Linked DNA regions of Homo sapiens. The protein of the gene in region 1 interacts with the protein of each later gene in a pairwise test. Each region holds a gene or a part of one and is shown in the gene's direction. Other genes may lie near its edges.

Region 1 (4,176 bases):
GGGACTCAGTGAAAGTAAAGAATATGATCAATGTGGAGAAGCCTTCAGTCAGATTCTCAATCTTAATCTGAACAAGAAAATTCCTACTATAGTAAGACCATGTGAATGTAGTTTGTGTGGGAAAGTCTTCATGCATCATTCATCCCTTAGTAGGCACATCAGATCTCACCTTGGACACAAACCATATGACTATCAGGAATATGGAGAGAAACCATATAAATGTAAGCAGTGTGGGAAAGCCTTCAGTTCTTGTCAATCCTTTCGAAGACATGAAAGAACTCACACTGGTGAGAAACCCTATGCATGTCCGGAATGTGGGAAAGCCTTCATTTCTCTCCCAAGTGTTCGAAGACACATGATTAAGCACACTGGAGATGGACCATATAAATGTCAGGAATGTGGGAAAGCCTTTGATCGCCCAAGTTTATTTCAGATACATGAAAGAACTCACACTGGAGAGAAACCCTATGAATGTCAGGAATGTGCAAAAGCTTTCATTTCTCTTCCAAGTTTTCAAAGACACATGATTAGGCACACTGGAGATGGACCTTATAAATGTCAGGAATGTGGAAAAGCCTTTGACCGCCCCAGTTTATTTCGAATACATGAAAGAACTCATACTGGAGAGAAACCCCATGAATGTAAACAGTGTGGGAAGGCCTTCATTTCTTTCACAAATTTTCAAAGTCATATGATTAGGCACACTGGGGATGGACCTTATAAATGTAAAGTATGTGGGAGAGCCTTTATTTTTCCCAGTTATGTTCGAAAGCATGAAAGAACTCATACTGGGGAGAAACCCTATGAATGTAATAAATGTGGTAAAACCTTCAGTTCTTCCAGTAATGTTCGAACACATGAAAGGACTCACACTGGAGAGAAGCCCTATGAATGTAAGGAATGCGGGAAAGCCTTCATTTCTCTCCCAAGTGTCCGAAGACACATGATAAAGCACACTGGAGATGGACCTTATAAATGTCAGGTATGTGGTAGAGCCTTTGACTGTCCCAGTTCATTTCAAATACACGAAAGAACTCACACTGGAGAGAAACCCTATGAATGTCAGGTATGTGGGAAAGCCTTCATTTCTCTTAAAAGGATTAGAAAACATATGATACTGCACACTGGAGATGGACCTTATAAATGTCAGGTATGTGGTAAAGCCTTTGACTGTCCTAGTTCTGTCCGAACACATGAAAGAACTCATACTGGAGAAAAACCCTATGAATGTAAAGAATGTGGGAAAGCATTCAATTATGCCAGTTCCATTAGAATACATGAAAGAACTCATACCGGAGAAAAACCCTATGAATGTAAGCAATGTGGAAAAACGTTCAGTTATTCCAGTTCCTTTCAAAGACATGAAAGAGCTCATAATGGAGATAAACCTTACGTAAAGAATGTGGGAAAGCTTTCATTTATCACACAACCTTCGAATACCTGTGAAAATGAATAGTGGAGGACAGGTCTACAAGTATCTACATATCTAAAGAATATGGAAAGTCTTCAGTTTGCTTTCTGGGTTTCAGACTTGTTTGGGAGCTCACCCCTTTCTCCTGTTTCTCACTTTTGGAATAGGAATCTCTATCCTGTGCCTGTCTCATATTTTGGAAATACATGACTAGTTTGGTTTTCACCGGTTCGGAGCTGAAGAAGAATTTTGCCTCAGCATGAATTGAGTCTCATCCATATCTGAGTGATGTGATATTGAGATGACACTTTGGAGTTTGAGTTTAAACATTAGGCTTCATGCTGGAATTAACTGAGACTTTTGAGGCCTTTGGGATGAGATGAATATATTTTACATGTGATGACATGGATTTTGGGGGCCAGAGGTGTAATGTTTTGGCTGAGTGTATGCCACCTCAGATTCATATGTTGAAACCTTACCCCCGTGCCCCCCCTCTCCCCCACAATGTGATGGTATTTGGAGGCCCTGTCTCTGGTGGTTTTTAGGATTGGAGGACATCATGAAGATGGAGGCCTTGTAATTGGGATTAGTTTCCTGATAGGAATCCCTAGAGAGCTAGCTTTGCCCTTCACCATGAGAGGGTGCAGTGAGAAGATAGCTATCTTTGAACCGGGAAGCAGGCCCTTACCAGACATGGACTATGCCAGTGCCTTGATATTGGACTTCCCAGCCTCCCAAACCATGAGAAATAAATGTTTGTTGATTAATTAAGCTTTCCAATTTATGGTATTTTGTTTTAGCAACCCAAGCTAAGACACAATCCAATTTTAAAATGGAGGAAAGGACTTGAATAGACATTTCTCCAAAGAAGATACCCAGATGGCCAATAAGCACGTAACAATGCTCGACATCTTTAGTCATTAGGGAAATACAAATCAAACTCAAGACATACATAGCATCTCATTAGGATTAGTAGTATCAAAGATGGAAAACAAGAAATACTGTCAAGGATGTGGAATGTTGGAGAACATTGTGCACTATCACTGGGAATGTACAGTGGTATAAGCCTGCTGAAAACAGTATGGCAGATCCCCAGATTAAAATATAGAAATAACATATGATCAGCATTTCCATTTCTGGGAAAATAAAAAGATTGAAAGCAGGGCCGGGCGTGGTGGATCACGCTTGTAATCCCAGCACTTTGGGAGGCCGAAGCAGGCGGATCACAAGGTCAGGAGATTGAGACCATCCTGGCTAACATGATGAAACCCCGTCTCTACTAAAAAAAAATTAGCCGGGCGTGGTGGCAGGCGCCTGTAGTCCCAACTGCTCGGGAGGCTGAGGCAGGAGAATGGCATGAACCCGGGAGGCAGAGCTTGCAGTGAGCTGAGGTCGCGCCACTGCACTCCAGCCTGGGTGAGAGAGCAAGACTCCGTCTCAAAAAACAAAACAAAACAAAAAAGATTGAAAGCAAAGTCTCAAATAGGTTTTGTACACCTGTGTACATAGCATCATTCACAATAGGTAAACTCTGGAAACTACTCAGGTTTTCATCAACAGATGAATAAACAAAAGGAAGTTTATACATACAAGAGAATATTACTGAGTCTTACAAAGTAAGGAAATTTACAAATATGCTGCAAGATGAACCTTGACGTGCTAAGTGAAATGGGCCATTCATGTAAAGACAATACGGTATGATTCTACTTATATCAGGTATCTAGAGTAGTCATATTGATAGAAAAAGTACAATACCATTTGCCAAAGGTTAGGGAAATTGGGTAATGGATAGTTATTTCATGGGCATAGAGTTTCAATTTTGCAAGATAAAAAGGGTTCCAGAGGTGGATGGTGGTGATGGTTGCACACTAGTATGAATGTTCTTAATGGCACTGAACTGTACACTTAAAATTGATTATGATGGTGAATTTTATGTATGTTTTACACACAAAAAAGGGAGAAAAGACCACAGTACTGCATAGACCTTGTGGGACCTTCAGCATACCAAGACACTCTAGGTCTCTCTTTTTTTTTTTTGAGATAGGGTCTTGCTCTGTCGCCCAAGCTGGAGTGCAGTGGTGAGATCTTGGCTCACTGCACCCTCTGCCTCCCAGATTCAAAGGCTTCTCATGCTTCAGCCTCTTGAGTAGCTGGGATTACAGGTGCGCACCACCACACCCAGCTAATTTTTGTATTTTTAGTAGAAACGGGATTTCGCCATGTTGGCCAGGCTGGTCTTGAACTCCTGATCTCAAGTGATCTGTCCGCCTCGGCCTCCGATAGTGCTGGGGTTACAGGCGTGAGCCACTGCGCCTAGTCTCTAGGTCTCTTTCCTACTTGTTCTCAGCACTGTTTTTTTCGTTTTTCTATCCATGAGGGACCTGTTCCTACACAGTCCATTTGGATTTTAGTAGGCATTTAGATTTGATCCCCAGGATTGACTTCCCTGTCTCCTCCCCCCTTCACTGTAGACCTGGACCTCACTCCCAGACCCAGGGCCTATGATAACCACTTCCCTTTATTGAAGAGGGATACTTTTAATTTCCTCTGCACACTATTCACAGACATGTATATCAAATATATATCTGATAATTTAAGCAAATAGAAATTCTTTGCTCGGAAATCTTTAAGAATATGAGAAGAAATAGCAGCATATAGTGTCCAGAAAAGGTGGGAGAGAACTTCTTAGGTATGGAAAGTTTATGTAATAGGTAATGTGTAACTATTTACCACTAATTCTGTACCTGGGGTAAAGGTGGTGTTCA
Region 2 (5,066 bases), on another chromosome or scaffold:
AGTCCATATCAGAATGGTTTCTTCCCTTTCTTTCCATTCTCACCACTGCTTTTCTCACCACCTCTTTAGTTTTTTCCATGGACTATTAGAAAGAGAATCATCCCTCCAACTGGCCCCTCACCCCAGTCTTGTCCACTTCCCACAAAACTGCTAGAATGAGCCTTCTAGGGGTAGGGGAGTCCATCCTCAAGATTGACTGACTTTCATAAGTTGGTTTTAGAGGGGCAGAGGAAGGCCATAGCCTTGTTCTTTACTCTTGAAAATACAACATTATAAAACCTTAACCAGAGCAGACATGTTAACAATTAACTTATTTATATTACCAAAGCATTCCTTATTTCTCCGAGTTATCATAGGTTCCTAGTAGATATCAAGGGGATTTCCTCAATGAAAACCTTGATTAGAGGAATCAACTCATATAAGCCTACAGGAGGGCTTATACATTATTTAATCCAGTCACAATACTTTGAGATCACATTTCGTACATACAGCAAGGTCCACCTGGATTTAGGAAAGTCACATATAGTGTTTTTGGATTCCCACCTTTTCAGGACCTTGATCTACCAATTATCTGCTCCTTCTACTTTATTGATAACCTTTCCTAGTTATTTATTATTTCCCAAGATTTTTGTTTGTTTTTAAATTTTATTTTATTTTAGATTCAGGGAGTACATGTGCATGTTTGTTACATGGGTATATTGCATATTGGTGGAGATTGGGCTTCTAGTGTACCCATCACCCAAGTAGTGAACATTGTACCCGATGGGTAATTTTTTAACCCTCACCCCCTCCCCTCTTTTGGAATCCCCAGTGTCTATTATTTTCATCTTCATATCCATGTGTACCTCTTGTTTAGCTTAGATTTATAAGTGAGAAAGTGTGTTTTGTGGTATTTGGTTTTCTGTTTCTAAGTTAGTTCACTAAGGATAATGGCCTCCAGCTCCACTCATGTTGCTGCAAAAGATATGACTTTATTATTTTGTATGGCTGTGTAGTATTCCATGGTGTATATATACCACATTTTCTTTATCCAGTCAAGTGTTGATGGTTGTTACTCTGAAGTTGGTTCTATGACTTTGCTATTGTGAATAGTGCTATGATGAACATATGAGTACAGGTGTCTTTTTAACATAATGATTTATTTTCCTTTGGGAGGATACCCTGTAGTGGGATTGCTGGGTTGAATGGTAGTTCTCTTTTTAGTTATTTAAGAAATCTTCATACTGTTTTCCATAGAGGTTGAACTAATTTACATTTCCACCCACAGAGTATAAGTGTTCCCTGTTCTCTGCATCTATGCCAGCATCTGTTGTTTTTTTAATAATAGCTATTCTGATTGGTGTAGCATGATGTCTCACTGTGGTTTTAATTTGCATTTCTCTGATGCTTATTGATGTTGATCATTTTTCATGCGTTTATTGGCAGCATGTATTTCTTCTTTTCAGAAATGTCTGTTCATGTCCTTTGCCCAGTTTTTAATGGGGTTGTTTTTTTTCTTGTTGAATTGTTTGAGTTCCTCATAGATTCTGGATATTAGTCTTCTGTCAAAGGCATAATTTGCAAATATTTTCTCCCTTTCTGTAGGTTGTCTGTATACTTTGTTGATTATTTCTTTTGCTGTGCAGAACTTTTTAGTTTAATTAAGTCCCATTTGTCTATTTTTGTTTTTGTTCCATTTGCTTTTGGGGACTTCATCATAAATTATTTGCCTAGGCCAATATCCAGAAGAGTTTTTCCTAGGTTTTCGTCTAGAATTTTTACAGTTTCATGTCTTAAATTTCAGTCTTTAATCCATGTTGAATTAATTTTTGTATATGGTGAGAACTAGGGGTCCAGTTTATTCTTTTGCACATGGTCAGCCAGTTTTCCCAGCACCATTCATTGAATAGGGAGTCCTTTCCCCATCCCATTTACAATAGCCAGACACACACACACACACACACACACACACACACACACACACACATTTAACCAAGGAAATGAAAGATCTCTATGAGGAGAACTACAAAACACTGATGAAAGAAATCGTAGATAACACAGACAAATGGAAAGACATCCCATGCTAAAGGATTGGAAGAATCAACATCATTAAAATGACCATGCGGCCCAAAGCAATCTACAGATTTAACACAATCCCTATCAAATTAGCAATATCATTTTTCACAGAATTAGAAAAAACAATGCTAAAGTTTATATGGAACCAAAAGAGAACCTGAATAGCCAAAGCAATCCTATGCAAAGAACAATCCTATGCAAAGAACAATCCTATGCAAAGAACAAATTACATTGCCTGACGTTAAATTATACTACGAGGCTATAATAACCAAAACAGCAGGTTTTGTATGGGTTACTGGTACAAAAATAGACACATAGACCAATGGAACAGAACACAGAACCCAGAAATAAAGCAACATACCTATAACCAACTGATCTTTAACACAGTCTTTCCCCGGTGTTTAAGCAAGTTTAAGTATCTGTCATCCTAAATCCTCCCCTTCAGCAGGAATCTTTCCTGCTTCTTGTGATCTGACCCTTGCCTCCTCTACAATCTCATCTCCCACTGTTTCTTATCTAATCTGCAAACCACCTCCATTCTTGCTGAAATCTGCCTCTAGTAGACCATGTGCTCTATCTTTGTCACTTTGCGCAAGCTTCTCTTTTTGCCTGGGTTGCCTTTTCCTCCCTCTCCACACTCTCTGCCTGCCCCCTGCTACTGGTAACCCCTGGACTTCCTTTATGACTCAACACAGGCTTCAGGAGGCCTTTTCTGAGTGAGCATTTCTGGGTAAGATGTTACTTCTCTGTGGCATTTGTCACTGTCTAATTCATTATATATTTACTTGTCTTCCTCCCTGGAGCTCACAGACTCTTTTGCTCAGCACCCCCAGAGCTTGGCACTAGGAGAGACTCAATAAATGAGAGCTGAGTGACTGAATGGATCCAGCTTAATTACATGGGATGAACTGGCTGTTGTTCACTCTGCCTTTGGGGCTTGGTCTCCACGTGTTCTCAGTGTTGGGCATATTTCAACCAGTGGGATGCTTGTCTTGAATGTGGGTGACTGAGGCTGGAGAGGTGGAAAAAGTGGGCTTGTTCTGTGGAATTGAGCCCATTCCCCTCAAACACTAGAGTCTGTGTCAATGTGAAGTCCACAGATGTGCACAAGGGACAGATATCTCCCCTCTCCTTCCTGCCAGGGAAGGCTATTTCTTCCATTTCTGGCCTCTGTCCATTTCATCTACACTATTCTCTGGAGAAGTTTGGACATTCATGGGCCCTTTGTTTCCTGTGGTGAGAAGTGCTGGATGTGAAAAGCATCTGGGGTGCTCTCTGGCCGGGGCCATAAAACTCGGCCTGGACCCCAGTCTCTGAGTTCAGGGGTACCTCAGGTATTCCTCTGTCCCACATGTTCCCTGCCTGCAACTCTGTTGTGAGCTCCACTTGGCAGGACTGGAGCACTGGTCTTGTTCAGTGCTGGGTTCCCCAGGCACAGGGTCTCACAAGTGAACGCTTGGTACTTGGTGAATGAATGAAAGTATGAAAGGTTCTTCTGTGTGTGTGTGTGTGTGCACGTGCACGTGCGAGAGAGACTCAACTTTGGCCCTGCTTTAGGCTTGTTAAAAATTTTTTTAGAGTTGGGGTCTTGCTCTGTCACCCAGGCTGGAGTGCAGTGGTGCAATCACAACTTACTGCAGCCTTTAACTCCTGGACTCCAGCAATGCTCCCACCTCAGCCTCCCAAAGTGCTGGGATTACAGGCACAAGCCACTGCACCCAGCCTTGCTTTAGGCTTTTAAAAGATCTCTCTGGGATAGCTCAGGGCAGCTTCTTGGGTAGACCCCACAGCCCTGCCTCCCTTGGCCTCTTGGAGCACCTGTAGAGTGCCCAGCTTGTCTCTGCATGCTGGGAACTTTCCTGGTGTTAGTGCTGGAAGACCTGCATTCTGGGAAACCCCTGCATTTGGGATATGCCGAGATGGATGGTCACTCTCAGCACATGCCGCCCGCACGTCTCCTCAGGTCCACAATCTGCAGGAGCTCCGGCGAAGTGCCTCACTGGCCACCAAGGTCTTTATCCAGAGAGACTACAGCGATGGGACCATCTGTCAGTTCCAGACCAAATTCCCCCCAGAGCTGGACAGCCGGGTAAGGATGCCTTTTTCTGCACTTGGAACCCAGGGCTGTGATGGAACTGAGGTTCTTATTGGAATGTATTTTATCCAGGATCCTATGACACATAATATCATAGGACACGTAACATGTTTGGCCACTTCAAAAGGATGAATTTTAAAAAATCAAAAGGATGATTCTTAATATTGTCTTACTGTCTCCTCATAGAAAATTAGAGCTGAAGGGATCTCAGGGATTTTCTGGTCTGGCTGCTCTCAAGTTTCAGTTGCCTAAAAATGATATAGAGAGCTTGTTAAACAAATGGAAATTCCTGAGTCCTACTGGATGATACAGGTGTTGTCCAGCAGTGCTGATCCAGTTGTTGGACTGTGGCTCAGGAGTCTCCATTTATTAGCAGCTGTTCTCAACCTTGGCTGTACATTAGAGGTTCCTGGGGAGCTTAAAAAATCCTGATGCTCAGACTGCAGCCCAAACCAACTACATTAGACTCTCTAGGGGTGGGACTCTGGAATCAGCATAGTTTTAAATCTTAATTTTGAAATGAATTTTAATCATGATTGTTTAAACTTTAGTATTTATTTATTTATAATTTTGTGGGTACCTAGCAGGGGTACATGAGATATTTTGATACAAGCATGCCATGTGTAATAATCACATCAGGGTAAATGGGGCATCCATTACTTCGGACATTTATCTTATCTGTTACAAACAATCCAGTTATACTCTTTTAGTTATTTTAAAATGTACAATTAAATTATTATTGACTATAGTCACCCTGTTGTGCTATCAAATACTAGGTCTTTTTTTTTTTCCCTTGATGGAAATCCAGGATGGAGTGCAGTGGTGTGACCACAGCTCCCTGCAGCCTCTGTCTCCCAGCTAAGGTGATCTTCCTGCCTCGGCCTCCCAGGTAGCTGGGGTTACAGGTTCGTGCCAC

The links.
Region 2: the proteins of ZNF564 (region 1) and GOLGA7B interact in a two-hybrid assay, tested with the Homo sapiens proteins (one large-scale study listed by BioGRID and IntAct).

Annotation. Positions count from the first base shown.
Region 1 is NC_000019.10:12,523,726-12,527,901, reverse strand, and holds the end of ZNF564 (zinc finger protein 564), read left to right. Parts: coding exon 1-1,456; 3' UTR 1,457-2,529; downstream 2,530-4,176.
Region 2 is NC_000010.11:97,855,440-97,860,505, forward strand, and holds part of GOLGA7B (golgin subfamily A member 7B), read left to right. Parts: intron 1-4,018; coding exon 4,019-4,144; intron 4,145-5,066.